3 linked regions of the Homo sapiens genome follow. The protein of the gene in region 1 interacts with the protein of each later gene in a biochemical or structural test. Each region holds a gene or a part of one and is shown in the gene's direction. Other genes may lie near its edges.

Evidence for each region.
Region 2: the proteins of MATN1 (region 1) and ITGA1 form a complex in vitro, tested with the Homo sapiens proteins (one study listed by BioGRID).
Region 3: the proteins of MATN1 (region 1) and COL9A1 interact in a biophysical measurement, tested with the Homo sapiens proteins (one study listed by IntAct).

What each region holds. Positions count from the first base shown.
Region 1 is NC_000001.11:30,710,659-30,713,598, reverse strand, and holds the end of MATN1 (matrilin-1 precursor), read left to right. Parts: coding exon 1-17; 3' UTR 18-2,322; downstream 2,323-2,940. UniProt on the Homo sapiens protein: A major component of the extracellular matrix of non-articular cartilage. Binds to type 2 collagens and forms long concatenated protein networks as part of the extracellular matrix.
Region 2 is NC_000005.10:52,916,887-52,924,017, forward strand, and holds part of ITGA1 (integrin alpha-1 precursor), read left to right. Parts: intron 1-1,845; coding exon 1,846-2,012; intron 2,013-3,445; coding exon 3,446-3,582; intron 3,583-5,890; coding exon 5,891-6,001; intron 6,002-7,131. UniProt on the Homo sapiens protein: Integrin alpha-1/beta-1 is a receptor for laminin and collagen. It recognizes the proline-hydroxylated sequence G-F-P-G-E-R in collagen. Involved in anchorage-dependent, negative regulation of EGF-stimulated cell growth.
Region 3 is NC_000006.12:70,216,016-70,223,146, reverse strand, and holds the end of COL9A1 (collagen alpha-1(IX) chain isoform 1 precursor), read left to right. Parts: intron 1-6,065; coding exon 6,066-6,250; 3' UTR 6,251-7,021; downstream 7,022-7,131. UniProt on the Homo sapiens protein: Structural component of hyaline cartilage and vitreous of the eye.

The sequences.
Region 1 (2,940 bases):
AGAACACAGTTGTCTAAGGCTGCCTGTCACCACTGTGGCCTCTCCAAGCGTCCTGCACGTGTCCGCCGTAGCTTTACCATTTTAGTGAGGGAAGCCAGCCCGGGGGTGGGAGGGGGTGTGTCTGGGTGTGCCTATTGAGAGCGTGTAATGGCGTTTGGGAGCTCGTGTGTGTATGTGTGCGTGTGTGTATGTGTGCATGTGTGTGTGTGTGTGTGTGTGTGCACGTGCGCCTGAGGGTGGGCATGAGTCTTGCCAGAATGTGAGTGTGAGAGTGATAATGCAGGGGTGAGTGTGAGAGGGACTGCGTTTGCATTTTTATAATCAAAAGCTTAATATATTCCCATCTTTTTTAGTTAACCCTTTCTTGACTCTGAGTGCTGTGAATTTCTTTACTGATTTCTCTATTCTCCGGTGAGAAACAATTAAATGTGATTTAACGTAAGCAGTGAATGGGGCTAGAGGCAGTGTGGTTATTTGGGGACCAGGGAAAAGGATGGATGAAGATGTGGTGGGAGGGGATGGTTGGAAGGATGGTAACAGTGGTGGTGACAGTGATGACAGTGACCACACCAAAACCAGCTGGTGTTTGTCCTGCCTTTTCAGTTACATATTCATTTAGTTGACCTCATTTCACTTCCAGTAACCTTACCCAGAAAAGACTCAAATTATCCCCATTACAAATGGGAAAGCTGAGAGTCTAAATGATGAAATGACTTGCTCAGCAGTGGGTCGCTGAGAGACAGGACTTGAATCTAGGACTGAAGAACATCAAAAGAAAAAGGCTTCAGAGAAAAAGGGCAATGACACCAGATAGGACTCATTTGTTCATTCATTCATTCGTTCACTCATTCGTTCAGGTATCATGTACTTACAGGGCAATGGCGGTGGGGGGGGATGGTGCTGTATGAGACAGACGTAGTTCCTGCCCTAAGAGACATACAGTTGAGCAGGGTGCTCATGTCACCCCCACCAGCCAGAGGGACCAGCCAGAGGAAAAGAGAGTGGGTTTAGGTCGTACCAGGGGTTTGTGCCTCCTCTTGATACCTGGGAGCCCACGGGGTGAGTGTGTGTGTGAGATGATGGGAAGGGCTCCAGCCTGGGCCTGGGCTGCCCTAGGTGCCTCTCCCCTCCCGCCCCCAACATGCCCTGTTGGAGTTCTGTTTGTTTCCTGTGCACAGGCGGCATCACCCCCAACCCAAAGTCCCCAACGCAGATGGCAGCAGCCCCACCTCAGAGACTGCACAAGAGAAAGACTCCTGGCCCCATGTTCCCTTCCTCCAGCCCTATGTGGGGTCTGCAGGTCACACCCTGAGATCTCGGCCACCTCCCCCAGGCCCCTGTTGGACCAGTGCTGCTCCGGAATCTCCATCTCTGTCCTCTCAGAGGGGGAGCTTTGGTGATTTTCTGAACCTATTCTTGTTTAATGGAGCATTTTTAGTGTTACTACTAGATTCACACTTGAGAGCATGTCTAAAAGGCTTTTACAAGAAGCTCAGACCACACCGAAAGATCTTCCTCGGAGGCAGTTCAAAGAGGCAGAATAACAACACGAACGGTACCCAAGAGCTACATCAGTACAACAGCACAAATACACAAGCGCGACTTAACTGGGGCACAGCCACCCTCGCCCCCATGACCTGACTCCACCTCCTACACAGTTCACCAAACCCTTTCTCTCTGTCCGTCCCTGGGGCAGGAGTTTTTCTGCTGTCCAAGGAGGCTCCTTGACACAGCCACCTGAGAAGTTATGACTCTGCTCATTCTTCCTTTCTTCTGAGATTATCCACTCCCCTCTCCTCCCCACACAGGTGGGGAGGGGGAGAGGCAGCCATGTTGATATGGACTGAGAAGGCTCAGCAGTGTGTCCCCAAGGAGGAGGAGAGGGTCATTAGCGGACGCCATGGCCTGGGAGCTGGCGGGCAGAAGCAACAGATGTCCCTGATGAGTGGAGTCAGAGATGGGGTGGAAGCCCTGCCTGGGAATAGGACCTCGTTCTTCCCTGCCCGGTGGGTGGAGTAGTGGCAGGACCTTGTCACCAGGCTCTGATGAAGGCAGGGACCAGCTTCTTGGGATCTTTCAATCCCAAACTCTTGCCCTTCACTCATCGCAGTTCTCCCCACGGCTACTCCAGGTCCTCTTGAAATCCGTCCTCTCCATGGACTTCCCACATCCCTCTCTGCTCTAGGTTTGATTAACAGAAGGTTGTAAATGAAAACCAGCATCTCCCGAGGGCAGCCATGGTCTACTGACAGATGGCAAGTTACTTTGTAACCTGTAATTTTGTTTTTTTGAATTTTGTATAAATAAACAGGACTAAACTAATTAGGATTGTTCTTTTCTTTCTTTCCTCAGGCCTTGGGCTATAATGGGAGTCTCTTGGCCCCGTAGTGCATTGGTTACCAGGTTTCAATAAAGGGTTTGTCTTTGCAATTACAGTTCATTAATGGATTTACAAGGGAGAGAAGATGGCACAGTCCGCTAAGGGGATTGTTTTGCATTTCTCCTCTTTTAATTACATGGTTTTCTCCTGGACCAGTGCTCTTTGAAAAAAGGGGGCGGGGGTGGAGAGTCCCAATGCCCCATCTGTTCCAGATGTGAATGCAATTAATCCAGGAGAAGACAGGAGCTGCTCAGGGACTTCCTGATACCTGAGGCTGGGCCTGCATCCTCTTCAGAGCCGCCTGTGAGGCTGGGGGTTGGGGGGCCCTGCTACTCAACCCTGGTTGGCATCAAGGTATGTTGACAAGGGGAGGGGACCACTCTGCTTATGGGGGCGTCGCAGCCTTGGAGTATTTGGGGTCAGAATCAAGTTTGGGTCACCTATTGAGTTACCATTTTTGGGTGATCCCTATGTGCCGGGTGATATATACACAATTTCCAATTCACACTTCTCAGTGATCCTTTTAATAAACTTATTTCACAGACAGGGACACCAAGGCT
Region 2 (7,131 bases), on another chromosome or scaffold:
GTTTCAAGGCTTTCTTGCAAAGCTTTGCAAACTTATTTATGGCCTCTCCTGCCCCAAATCAAGGCATTGATGGCCCAAAATGATAGTCATTTCCCTATCATAGTCCAGGCTCCACTGACAGCAGAATGGACCAAACCGATATACTGGGACACGAAGACTAAGATTCACAATGCCTAACAAGAAGTGAGAGTGGATACAAGTGACAGATGATAGGAAAAACGTTTGGAAGCAAATAGTGAGAGTCTTGTCATGAGACCTGGACTGACTCCCAAGAAAGATCTGGCTGGGGCAGAGAGGATGTGTGGGGTGGACAATGGTCGAGGCAGCTTCATGCCTGGAGAATCCATATTACTAAGCAGGAAACTAGGCATGTTCATTCATTGCTGATGAAAGGGTAAACTGGCTAAAACTCATTCGAAGGTCTTTATCAATAAGTGTTTAAAAGCATTCCAATGTTCCTACTTTTTACCAAGGATTTAACTTCCTAAAAATGTAAAGATACAATCTAGAAGTACAATTAAAGGTGTCATCACAGCACTGTATGTAATACCATCTTTTAATAATGTTAAATTTACCACTATACTCAGAAACCTTTTTTTTAAATTAAGCTAAATATCCAATGAGATGGGATTGAATGCATAGATTATGGTATGTGCATATGCTGGTATAGTCTGCTTCCATTAAAAATAATAAATCCCATTAAAAATAATGTTCTCAGAAAAATGTAAATATTGGAAAGCTGTTCATTGTAATATAATGTTTTAAAAATTTGTAGGCATACATATGAAGATGTGCTTTTGTATATATGTATGTATGCATGTGTGTACGTGTATGCATGTTTTCTTCTGTAAAGAAAAAACCACTGAGTGTACTAAATGTTAATGATGATTATTGCTGAGTGGTAGTATAACAAGTTATTTGTGTTTTCTTTATGCATTTCTATGATGTTTATATTTTCTATGAGTCCATTGTTTTAACAGAAAAAAGAAAACCACCTTTTTTTAATGCAAAAGCATAAGTAGTGACCTCATTATTCACAACATACACAGTTATAAGGGGCTAGCTCTGGCCACAAGGCAGAAACCAGGTAAAAATGTGCAGTAATTGTTCCGGCTTGGATCTAAGACAATGACCTCAGTATCCATATATTCTCCATGTCTGAGATCTTACTCTGATCTCATTTTGGATTAGTAGACATTACTGGGCTTTCGAGTTAAAACGACTGAGTTTAAAATCCCAGGTTTTTCCTCTTAATAGCTTTTGACCTGGCATAAAATATTTAACTTTTCAGAGCCCCAGTTATCAAACGTAAAACAAAAAAATGATGTTGCTTATAATTAACCTTAAGAATTAAATGAAATAGCATCCATGTCTAGCACAATGCCTCAAATGTTATTTTGCTTTTCCTTCCTAGAAATAGAGGAAGAGCTGAACTCACAAGGACAGACAATATTACAGTCCAGACAAGAGATAGCAGGGGTCTACGGGCTGTTCAGGGACCTTTAGACTTCTTTCAAATTTGGAACAAACTCGTAAATCCCCAAAATACAGTTGATTCTGGGGTTTCACCTGGACACTTGATTCCATCTCTTTTCCATCACAGGAAAAACTAGATCTTTGGTGTTTGAACCAAAAGCCCCAAATGGTTTCCAAATATAACCTACATGTCTTAGAACATCAGATATAATCTCTTCTGTAACAATGATTAATTAAAGAAATGGAGTCCTGAGCGCTGTATTATACATGAAGCAGAACCCTCTTCCATGCACTCACTTTGCACTCCCAAGTTGATGACATTCATTAAATGTAAAAATGTGTGAGTAATCCCATTGTTTTTGTTTGTAGGTCCCGAGATGTGGCCGTAGTTAAAGTGACCATGAATTTTGAGCCAAATAAAGTGAATATTCAAAAGAAAAACTGCCATATGGAGGGAAAGGAAACAGTATGCATAAATGCTACAGTGTGTTTTGATGTGAAATTAAAGTCTAAAGAAGACACGATTTATGAAGCTGGTAAGCAAAATAATTATAGCAAGTACTTTTGGGTAGAGGACAATATATTTGCTCTAGCATGATGAAGTCCAGTAGGATATTGTATTTTCCCCACATGGTGAGCTGCACGTCATATTTGCCCCAGTGAAGATGCAGAACCTTGAAAAAAAATTCTGTTGCAAAAGGAATAGGTTATGGAACCCAGTCAATTCTGGAGCAGAAATTACATGTTTGTATGCAGTGCCCTCAACACTCCATAGTTTCTGTCTGGCTCTCCTACTTGCTATGTACAATGAGACGCTTAAGAAAAAAATACCGATTCAGAGGTAGAGTTTAGAAATTGAGCTACAAATGGGCCCAGTTTTCCTTCCTGTAGGTTTCTACCATGACTCTTCTCTCCCTTCTCTTGCCCCCTCTTGGGAAAGACTGATATTGCAGAGAACCCTAATACTTTACCATTCCCACATTTCCGAGATCCTTTGTTCCATTGAGGTGACCCTAGTTTCCGAGAGTCAGACTTGTTCTGTGTGTGTGTTCTCAGGTGCATCAGGTCAGCCTGTGCTTCCTCTTCCTCCCTCCGTTCTCCACTTTCTAAGGCAGCTTTTTAATGATGTTGAAATATGCTCGAATCAAAGCTATAAAGGCCATTGGCTAAAGAAGAGAAATTTACTCTGTAACCAAATACAAGCAGAATGAGAAAAGCCATTAATCCTTAAAATCTGTTTTTCTTGATTTGTTCCATATGTGCATGTATATGCTCTGAAATAGCCTCCTGACTAGAAAGATCAATGAGGTATAAGAACATAAAATAATGATTTTGAGTTTTATATGTAACTTTATTTCAGTCTTATTTAATTTTTGCAAAGTAATTAAGTGATCAAATAAGGAATATTGTAGCCTTCATATACAGTGTAAGATTTCATTTATTTTCTTTATTGTGGTATGCTTATTTTATTGAACCTTAATAGTGGTTTGACCATAAGCTGAGATAATGTCATTTTATATATAAATAGATTAAAATGTATATATTTGTAAATAAATAACTAAAGTATATTTTTGTCCCTATTGAAATATAACATAATCAATATTCTAAGCAGGGTTCCAACATTTCTAAACTTAAAAAGAATGTTTTAAGTGAAAATATAATAAATACAGTGGTGGCCTGGCAATTAGATGATAGGCAGGTGTGCATGTGTGTATAAGAATTATAAACAATAAATGTAATTAGACACTGAAAGCACAGTGAACTCAGAGACCAGTTCTATAGAGTTCCTCAAGGTTATCTTCATGACTGCTAATATCATTGTTATAACAGTGTGGATATGCTGAACAATAGAATCTTTTTTGATTGATTGCCAAAGAGATTTTTCTATAATGCTAATTTAATAATCTGTACAATATGAGAATCACTTCAAATAAACATTTCCATCAATTATTTTTTAAAATTTTTGTAGATTTGCAGTACCGTGTCACCCTAGATTCACTAAGACAAATATCACGAAGTTTTTTCTCTGGAACTCAAGAGAGAAAGGTTCAAAGGAACATCACAGTTCGAAAATCAGAATGCACTAAGCACTCCTTCTACATGTTGGCAAGTAAATCATATATCGTTGCTGCCTTATTCCAAATCAAGAATACAGTAGAGATGTCTTATTTCAAGTCAATCAAATTCTTACTGTTTTATTTCAAAATGCACTTATGATGTCATAAAGGAAATCTTGTTTGTTCATTTTTATCATAAAATCGCAGGTCTAATTTTCTCATTTCCAAATATTTGTAAAACTATCTCTAGTCTTCCCTGTCTGCATTATCAGACATCCATATATTATGGAACGGCAGGAAAAGACACAGTGTTCTAGTTGACAAGAAACCTTATTCATGTCTTCATTTCTTTCACTCATTCATTTATTCCTTCAACTTGAAAACATTTAATTTCTGTGGGCCTTGTCTGTCAGTTGTGGTTGGTAAGTGATTAACTGCTCTGGGGGCAGACTGCTGGGCTGTATGCTTTCTGGGATCCATGTAACTACATATCTCGCCGTTTGATTTTAGAGCGAAGGGGAAAATTATCTGGTATTTTCTATCATCTGTAGGCTTTGTGCTACTTCAGTTTTTTTTTTTTTTAATTTTAGTGGATGAGGGAGTTTTGGAAATCAAACTATTAATGTTTAGAGATGGCTGGTAAGCCAGTGTGAATCATTTAAAATGTATTTTGTTGGGACACTGTGTATATGGGGAATGTTCCCAACAGAGGGCAGGAGTTTCCTAAACATTTTCTTAAAATGTACATGAGAGTGATAAAAACAAGAAGCAGCATGAAGGTAATGAGGAAACTGATTTTAGTAACTGACATTAAGACTTAGAGACTTGACGGTAAACTTGGAGCTTTAAAGGAACCAGGCCAATTTTCCTACTTCTGACTTATTTCTGTATTATTGATATATTCATAGTCTGTATTTTGAAAATTGTAGTTCAGGGGCAGGGGAGTGACAGAAAATGTGCACCCTTTTGTGCCACATTTGTTCTTCCTCAGTGATTTTCATGTTGATATGCTTCATGATACTTATCATGAAGCTTATTCTGTCAGGACCAAGATCAATCTATTATTTGGTAAAATAACACTGGAGTTGCCCCTCCTATTTAGTTAATCAGAACTGAACACTTAGGAATTAGAATGTGGATAAAATTTGAATGGGTATGAAACCAGATATGGCATTGTCTCCAACCTGCTAAAAATCATCTCAGTCTATGTTTGTCCACAAATTCAGTGTCTAAGTTATGTCCAGGTACTGGTGTTTAAAGGACTGAAATATTTTCAAAATTTCGAAAATTGTTTTGGATTTTGAAAGAAGCACTTTGAAATTTGTTCTGGAGTCAGCCAGTGTAGAATTTGTATCCCAAATATTCCACATTCTGAGAGACTTTGGCAACGTCGTTTGGTCTCTTAGAGGGTCAATCTTTCATCTGTAAAATAAGGACAATAATAGTTACTCATCTTAGAGGACTGTTGAAATAATTTGCAATAATGTATATAAAGCTCATAATTTTGAATACTATAAATGATTATTGTTATTGGTGGCATGTTAACAGTATTAATCATATTCACATCCTTTCCAAATAATTTTACATTATAAAATTCTTGGCCAGGCATGGTGGCTCACGCCTGTAATCCCAGCACTTTGGGAGGCTGAGGTGAGTGGATCACCTGAGGTCAGGAGTTCGAGACCAGCCTGGCCAACGTGGTGAAACCCCGTCTCTACTAAAAACACAAAAATTAGCTGGGTGTGGTGGCACATGCCTGTAATCCCAGCTAGTCGGGAGGCTGAGGCAGGAGAATCACTTGAACCTGGGAAGTGGAGGTTGCAGTGAGCCGAGATCGTGCCGCTGTACTCCAGCCTGGGTGACAGAGAGAGACTCTGTCTCAAACAAACAAACAAACAAACAAACAAACAAAAACTTATAGCTGTAGGTATATATTATATTAATGAAATGTAACTCATTTTATAGAAAGTTTGCCCTTCTGAAGTTGGGAAATGTTCCCGGAAGTGTTACATAATGATCTTTGGCTTGAGGTCTCAAGAAAAACTATATTGTGATGCAGGTAGCTCCTATGTTGACACAGCCAAGTGTGATGTTGCCATCACTCCAGCAGGGCCCTCTGAGGAACTGGAAGTGAGTCAACAGGTCATACTCTGAAACCTCCACATTCCCCTATGCCCCTTGTCAGAATGCCAATCCCTCTCCAGGGAAGCAAAAGCCTGATGAGATCATATGTCAGATTAGATGCACAAGAATGCTGCAGTAAGCCTGACCCTTGGGAACAGAAGAAGGAGACATAACAAGATCAGAACACCCGGTAAATATGATACCAGTGATATATTTTATGTTTCACCCTCTAGGACAAGCATGACTTTCAGGACTCTGTGAGAATAACGTTGGACTTTAATCTTACCGATCCAGAAAATGGGCCTGTTCTTGATGATTCTCTACCAAACTCAGTACATGAATATGTAAGTCAGATTTCTTTAAAATACAAAATACCAACTTGTGAACATTTTAATGTCACTAGTAAACTGTGTTTTTTCACTACTCTGCATTGATCACAAAGAACGAACAACTAACTGGAAGAAAGAAAAAAAAGGCAAGCAGATTTTATTCCTGGTCAGGAATGGAGAAAGAGGGAGCTCTTGCTCTAAAGACCTTCTCTTCAAGCTGTGAAAACCTGGGGAATTTTAAGGAGTTAGATGTGGGGCAGGGAGGTATATGTAAGCATGTCCAGAGAGGAACTCCAGATGTACAAGTACAGCTCATAAACATGCTTCCTTATACAACATATGTTCAAGAAATGGTGGCCATTTTCTTCTATGGCAGGGACTTTAGCATTATAATGACATGTTAATGATCTAAAGGTAACAAGGGGTTGCTGGTTCTTGTTTGCTCCGTTTTCTCAATGGCTTTATCTTCCTCTGGTAATTGGCAAAGGGTCCTGAAGCTCCCAGGCCGTCTATAGTTGTTTTTCAGCAAGCTTACCTACAGATAAATAGACTAGAAAAAAAAAAACTGTTTAAGAAAAAATAATGCACTTTCTCAGCTATCTACTGTTTAACAAAATAATGAACTTTCTCAGTTATCTACTCTTCAAGAAAATAGTAAACTTTCTCAGCCATATCTCCAGGTTTGCCCTGGTAACATTAGGAAAAAGCTTGAAACCCATGCACACATAACCCTAAATCAATTTAAAATGTTTTAAAAAAGAATTAGGCTCTTCTAGACTTTTTCCAATCCTTCTAATTTCCTATTGTTGGAGTTTAAGAAAACTAATAAATGACACTCATTTTTACCTCATTTGAATTTAGGACCAATGGAAAGAAATCTCCCCCATTATTCTAATAAGCACTGGATTGCAGTGTATGGTTTAGGTATAAAGGGTGTCCTCACGCTGAAGCATGGACTTAGACCACCAGTAACCACCTAGGTCATCAGCAGTGCTGATCCATCTCTGTCCTTCTTCATGGAGCCCACCTTGTAAAACTTGTCAAATGGAGTAGAGCCAAATGTGTGCTTCCTGTGGGTACAGCTGCTCTGAGAATAGAAATGAGAGAAAGGGACTGAGTTGTGTTCACTTAGTTCCTGTTCCCAA
Region 3 (7,131 bases), on another chromosome or scaffold:
GTAATATATTACTCTTCTCTAAATCAGCACCGCCCCTGATGCCCAGACCTTCCCTCCATGAAAGTCTACTTCAACTCCAAATCACAAATGCGAAGTACTGGGTAGCAGTACATCTTTTCACTGGTTAATTGTCCACTGAGGCTATACTGCTTTTTATTTCTTGGTAGAGCTTGAATGTGACTAGGAATGTGATTTCTGATCTCTCAAAAACATAATATTAATAGGACTTTAAGGCCTGATGAAACTTCAAAAGGATTCTGTGCAGTAATTTGTCTGGAACCGTCTAGATAAAAAAATTCTTTTCTTACCTAAAATAAAGAAACTGCAGAACAGCATAGTCTGCAACCTTCTTTGTTGTTCCTGTTGTTGGATTTGGGGCTCAAATCCTCCTGAATAAAAAAAAAAAAGATAGTTGGATCATTCTTTGTGCTAAGGCATTTAACATATTTTTAACGATGTAACTAATATCATCATTTTCTATCGGTTGTTAGAGTTCCTGTATTCTTTCTGGACAGTTTTAGTTCCCTGTCTCCCCTCTCCAATGCTGTATCTCTGTTTGTTCAGTGTTAAGTATTACATGCCCTGCAGGGACATAATGCTCATTGCTTGTTATGGAACACAGGTTATTATTATAACCTTTACATTGATGATCATTTTGGCTACAGTGCTTTGTTGTTTAAAAAGTACACATGCACAATCTAGTTTGTTTCTCACAGCCAGGAGTAGGCTGGGTGAATATTTAAGAAGTGCAGACATGGAGCCAGGCTGCCAGGGCTTATGCACTATTCTTTTACCTTGAAGTGCTTCAGTTTCCTCTTCAGTGAATGGGAATCACTATGCCTACCTTGTATTTAGAGCATATATGCACATGTTAATACATGTAAAGCTCTTGGAACAGTGCCTGGCATATGGCAAACAGACACTCTGACATTATTTAGTGAAATTTAACTGTTATTATTGTTGCTCCCTTTTTTTATAATATATTTGAGAAAATACAGACTCTTAAATTCATGTCCTGACAAAAGTCTGTCAGGTAATAACAAGACAGATATTCATGCTTCCTGAGTCTATGTTCCCAAAGTGGACAGAATGATTGGCTGGCTGTCTAATCATACGATTAGTTTTTCTTTGCAACCTAGACATGTGAATTGAGCATGTCCCATAATTGCTGAGTGTCTCGCTTCTTTCTCTGCCTCTCTTGCAGAGCTACGTGGATCACATTAGCAATCCCTGGAACTTTAGTCTCCCCCGCCTTCAGTTTTGTGCCACAGGTCAGCTAGTGTTATTGCTTGGTCGGTTGTCTCAAAGACTCTCTCTGCTGCCACCAAACTTGCCCATTGGGACTAGTTCCTCGTCACTCTGAGAATTTTAAAGGAACATATTTATTAATAATAAAGAGTCCTGACTTCCTCTTTGTGCACTCACTAGGGCAAAACATAAATTAAATGACAAATCATTTGAATGTGAACACTAGGAAGGTGACTTGTGAGCTAAGGTGCTTTTTGCCTCTTGGACATGGAAGTTGTAGCTGGCTTTGTGCTGGACTATGCTAGGTTATAAGAGTATTTGGTTTTCTTGTGCAAAGTCCACAGAAAGGTGAGCTTTGCTTGAGACTATTGAGTGGAAAAATACACACGCACACATTCAGTTCTGGGCTAAGTTTTTCAGTACCTAATTTTTCCATTTCCATTGCTGCAGCTGTTTTATTTGGTTGCTGGGCCTTACATAAACCAGTTTATAATTCCTTAAACATATACTGCTTTGTCAAATACCACAACATTAAGCTCAAGAAATATAAGAAACTCCTGGTACATACAAAAAGTCTACATAACCAGTGGATTAATTATGAAATACCCTATTTAATGTGAAAATTATTCACTTTTTTTGTTTTGACTGTATACACAGTCCCTTTTACGCCACAGCATGTATTAGGTGAGGGGCTGCCTCCAGAATGATCCAGCCGAGATGGGCTTCCATCAGTGTAACATGACTACCCTCTAGTGGTTTTATAGAGAATGACATAGCTATTCATTTGTTTAAAAAAAAAACGTTTAGCAATAATTTTAAATATTTTATTTTATTTTAATTGACATATAATAGTTATACATATTTATGGGATATGTAGTAATGTTTCAATAGAAATATTACATAATGACCAGATTAGGGTAATTAGTATATCCATCATCTCAAACATTTATCATTTCTTTGTATTGGGAATATTCAACATATTTATAGGTCCTTGACATTTCAGAAAACCATGTAATCATTAGGCAGTTAGTGTAAGTAATACACACATGAGGCAGGCAGAGCAGAATAACACTTTAGATGCATGTTTTCTCTTTCTGAAGAGTTACAAAGCAGTTGATAGATATTCATGAATGTAGCTGCTGGGCTAACCATTTATGCCCATTTTGTGAACCGTTATTATGAGTCAGCTTCACTTTTTGAGTGATGTGGACTGTGGACATAGTGTCACCCAACTGAGGCTCCCACATAGTTTAGAACATACATGAGAGCAAAGGCCCTGGGTCAGGGCTTTCCAGAGCCTGACAATCTGCTATGTTAAGGCTGTTTTTTTTTCTCTGGTATTTCTACAGGGCAAAACCTCAGAGAAATATCTTAGTTTCTTATGATCATTAGAGCTCTGCAAAAGTCAATACTGTGCTTTGTTTTTGTACCTCTGTCTACTTCCTGGTCAACTCAGGCCCAAGGAATTAAAAAAAATGACCACACACACACACACACACACACACACACCCTGCCACACCCCTCCACACCCTTCCACAGAGTTAAAAAAATCAATAGGTAGGAAAATACAGTTAGTGCAGTGGTTAAGGGTCCTCATTTCTGGCTATATGACTATGGACAATTATTTGACCTTCCTAACTCTCAGTTTATGCATGAGAAAAATGGGCTCAATAATGAGCATAGTGTATGCCCATGGAAAAGAGAAAGCATTCTCATTAAGCATTTGTGGTGATGATGATGATGATGATGATGATGATGACATCATCAAAAGCTCCAAAGGGTAAATTGCTGCATTTGCCAAAGGCAGAACTGGATGAGATGCATGCTTCATAAAATAAATCAAGGGTAGACAGGATGGCTTCATCGACTCTTCCTTCAGAGGATAAGCAGCAATTTGGAATAAACTCAGCAAGGTAAAAAAGAAAAAGAAAAACTTCTCCTGAAGTGTGTTGATGGGGAACCAAATGTGAAAATCTAAAAAGCTATCCTTCTGCTTTTTAATATTGTTAGTGTATTAGAGAATAAATTACTTAAAACTTAAGGTTTTTGGCTGGCTCTACAAATGTTGAAAAAAATTTGAATTAGTTGCTAACATTTAAACATTGGGAGATATTTATTTAAAGACTCAGCTTCCTGGCCTCTCTTGAAAATTATCAGAAGTTCTGGCAACACTGGCCTGTATTCCCCGATGACAGCTGTTAGCTGGAGAAGAGCTGCTGCCCGCATCCACTTTCCAGCTCACCACAGGCCTCACTCCTCCCTTTGGTCTCCCCAACACTTACGTGGAATATTAGTGGCCAAATTTCATTGCATTTGTACTTTACGTTTTCATCTGGTAAAAACAGTGGGGGAATTTCTTAATCCAGGCTTGTTTCTTTATAACATCAGGGATCAGCAAACTTTATTTGTGAAGGATCAGATTATTTGGCTATGGGCACCATATTGCAGCTATTTAACTCTGCCCTGGTACGCCAAAGCAGCCACAGACAATATGTAAACAAATGACCATGGTCGTGTTCTAATAAAACTACAAAAACAAGATTTAGCTCATGAGCTGAAGTTTGCCCACCCCTGATCTCAATGACCATCCCAGCCCCTGTGCTCATTTGGTTTTCTACCTCTTCTTTGGGCATTTCCTTCTCCTAAACTTGATTTGATTTTAAGGCACACCTGGTATGTCTCAGTGGGAACATTCCTAGTGATAAGGTGCATGAAAATCGGATTTAGATCTGGCTCATCTTTTAAACCTTAAAAAAATCAACTTCACCTTTAACTGCATCTGGTGTTAAGGATCTTAACAGGTGCTGCTAAGGGCATAGTTCTGCTACAGCTTTATCTATAGATGCTGTGGATTAGGGAGAAGCTTTCTCAGGGACCTCATCATTAAAAGAAAACACATAATGATCTGCTTCATACTTACTAGGTATAGTTGAATGAAAGTATATGGGATAAATTAGGGAAAATTACTTATATCTCTGCTTATCTATAGCTTTGAGATGGATAAATTCAAAGATAATTATTCTCCCTTAAAACTTATTAATATATTGCCCTATGACATTGCTTTGTGTGGATCGAAGTGTATGCACCAGAGGAAGAATGAGATGTTATGTAAAGCAGGATCTCTAACCTACCTTCCTTCTAAAAATATGTGAGATATATATGAATAAGACCATATTACTACAGTAAGACCAACAAAAGACATATAAAAAGACAACTGAAATAGAAAAAGAAAAGTAAAAACCACAGAGAAAGAAGGAGAGTAACCAAATATAAGCAAATATGTAGTTGAACATGTAGATTTGGCTTCCGGCTTTTTGGCTGAAAGACCAGGTTAAGATGGCTGAGATGGAATGAGGATCCCTATATTATTTTGGCATACACAATTTGTTTTACACTGACTTCTCATCACCACTTTTGCAATAATTGTGTGAAAGTGCTGCTAGTGCACTGGGGTAAACATTCAGCAGAAATTCCTCTTTGTTATGGGGTGCTGTGCCTCAGAGAGTGTGCCCCATTGAGGGCAACATACAACCCTTAAACACGACAAAAGGAAGACAAGCAAGAAATGTCCCCCAGAGAACCTGCTATTGCAAAGTTCATGTTGGGGTCAGCCCTTCATGAGAAAAATATGAAAATTTGTAGGGCACATGGCACAGCCTTCTAAAAGACATTAATCAATAATATCTTAATAATTGTAATAATAGCCCCTATTTATCAGGTGCTTCCAATTGTAGAATTATTATTATTATTATTTTTAAGACGAAGTCTTGTTCTATCGCCCAGGCTGGAGTGCAGTGGCGCGATCTCGGCTCACTGCAACCTCTGCCTCCCGGGTGCAAGTAATTCTCCTGCCTCAGCCTCCTGAGTAGCTAGGACTACAGGCATACACCACCATACCTGGCTAATTTTTTTGTATTTTTAGTAGAAATGAGGTTTCACCATTTTGGCCAGGCTGATCTCAAACTCCTGACCTCAGGTGATCTGCCCACCTTGGCTTCCCAAAGTGCTGGGATTACAGGCATGAGCCACTGCACCTGGCCTGAATTTAATTATTAGGAAGACATTATCCCATCTTGTAGATGAAGAAACTGAGAGATTAGTGACTTGCTAATGTCACATTTTTCATAAATGATAGGGCTAGAATGTAAAGCTATTTGTCTCCAAAACCTGTGTTTTTAACCGCTAAACTATACTTCTCCCTGCCCGGATGTTGCTCAACTCTTAGAAGTAAGGAATACTGCTACTTGCATTCAAAAGAAATATAATGTGAGCCACAAATGTGAGTTGCATGTATGATTTTAAATCAAGTAGCCACATGAAAAAGGTAAAAATAATCAAGTGACATTAATTTTAATAATATAGTTTACTTAACCCACTGTGTGCAAAAGATCATTTCATCATGTAATAGACACAAAAATTATTAATGAACTATTTTACATTTTTTCATATCAAGTCTTTAAAATCCAGGTGTGTTTGATCCTTAGTTCATCTCCATTTGGCCTCATCACATTTCAGCTCTCAATAGGCACCTGTGGCTGGAGGCTACCATGGTGCACGGTGCAGCTCTACTGATGGAAATGGGGGTTAGAGACACTGAGGTCTCTTTCTGCTTTTAATTTCCATGAAAACCCAAGTCCAAGGAAGGGATCTTATTATCATCATCATCATCATCATCACCAATCATCACCAGTCATCATCCATCGCTTCCAAAAGCGTTTGTTAAACCCCTTATCTGAGCGCTGCTGAGCCATGCCCTCTGCCAGTTTGCATCAATGAGGATTCTCCTGTTCACATGTGCAATCTTCTGTGTGTTTCAGGTGACCCAGGCCCTGCCAGCTATGGCAGAAATGGCCGAGACGGTGAGCGAGGCCCCCCAGGGGTGGCAGGAATTCCTGGAGTGCCTGGACCCCCGGGACCTCCTGGGCTTCCCGGTTTCTGTGAGCCAGCCTCCTGCACCATGCAGGCTGGTCAGCGAGCATTTAACAAAGGGCCTGACCCTTGAAAGGCTTACTGCTGCATGGCTGTCTGCATGAACCACGCCTGGTGAAGGAGCCTGGGTGAGAAACACCATCCAAAGCTGGGGCAAAGATGATTACCTTCAGCATGATTACAATGTATTACCTTCAGTATGATTACAGAAGTCCTACTTGACAATCACATATAGAAGAACGGTGCTATTCAGTAAGTTCTCTTTCCTTTCCCTTGGAGGGAAGACAGCAGAGTCATCAGTTAAAAAAAAAAAAAGAAAACCAAACACCTCCCTTGAATAAATTTATACTCCTGTTCCCAGGATCTTGAGCTTTAGTGTGCTATACCTATGTGTCTTATCGTGGGCCACTGTGCCAATAAACAAAAACAACTGTTTGGTTTACCTCAGTTGCAGTAGTTATTTTCATTTAGAAGTTGTTCTCAGATTATTGTTTCAGTTATATAGAGGATTACTAGACTAGTTATGAAGAAACCCCACTACATTCAATGGAATTGGTGCTTAAAATCTCATCGATGTGCTGTCTCTGGAGTGATAAGAAAGGGCTACATCTCCCGAAATGATTTCTTTACGTCATGTATTGGTTTCCTTCTTCACCTTGAACTTTTGTTGAACTGTATGTACTTTACCCCAAACCTGTTAATATTTTGAGCGCTTCTATGTGAAAGCAAAGAAATAATTTTAATACTCTGGCATTCATAAATTTTATTGATGAGATTATTTATTTTAAAGGTTTGAGGTAACATCTCTGGTTGTACCAAAGAAGAAATAAATATGGTTTCTTAATCTCTTGCATGTTTTCTTATAAATAATCATGTTCAATGAAAAGAAGTTACTGAGCTTATTTAGATACATTAAACATTACTTAACTACTGGTTCTATAGGTGTATGTTTAT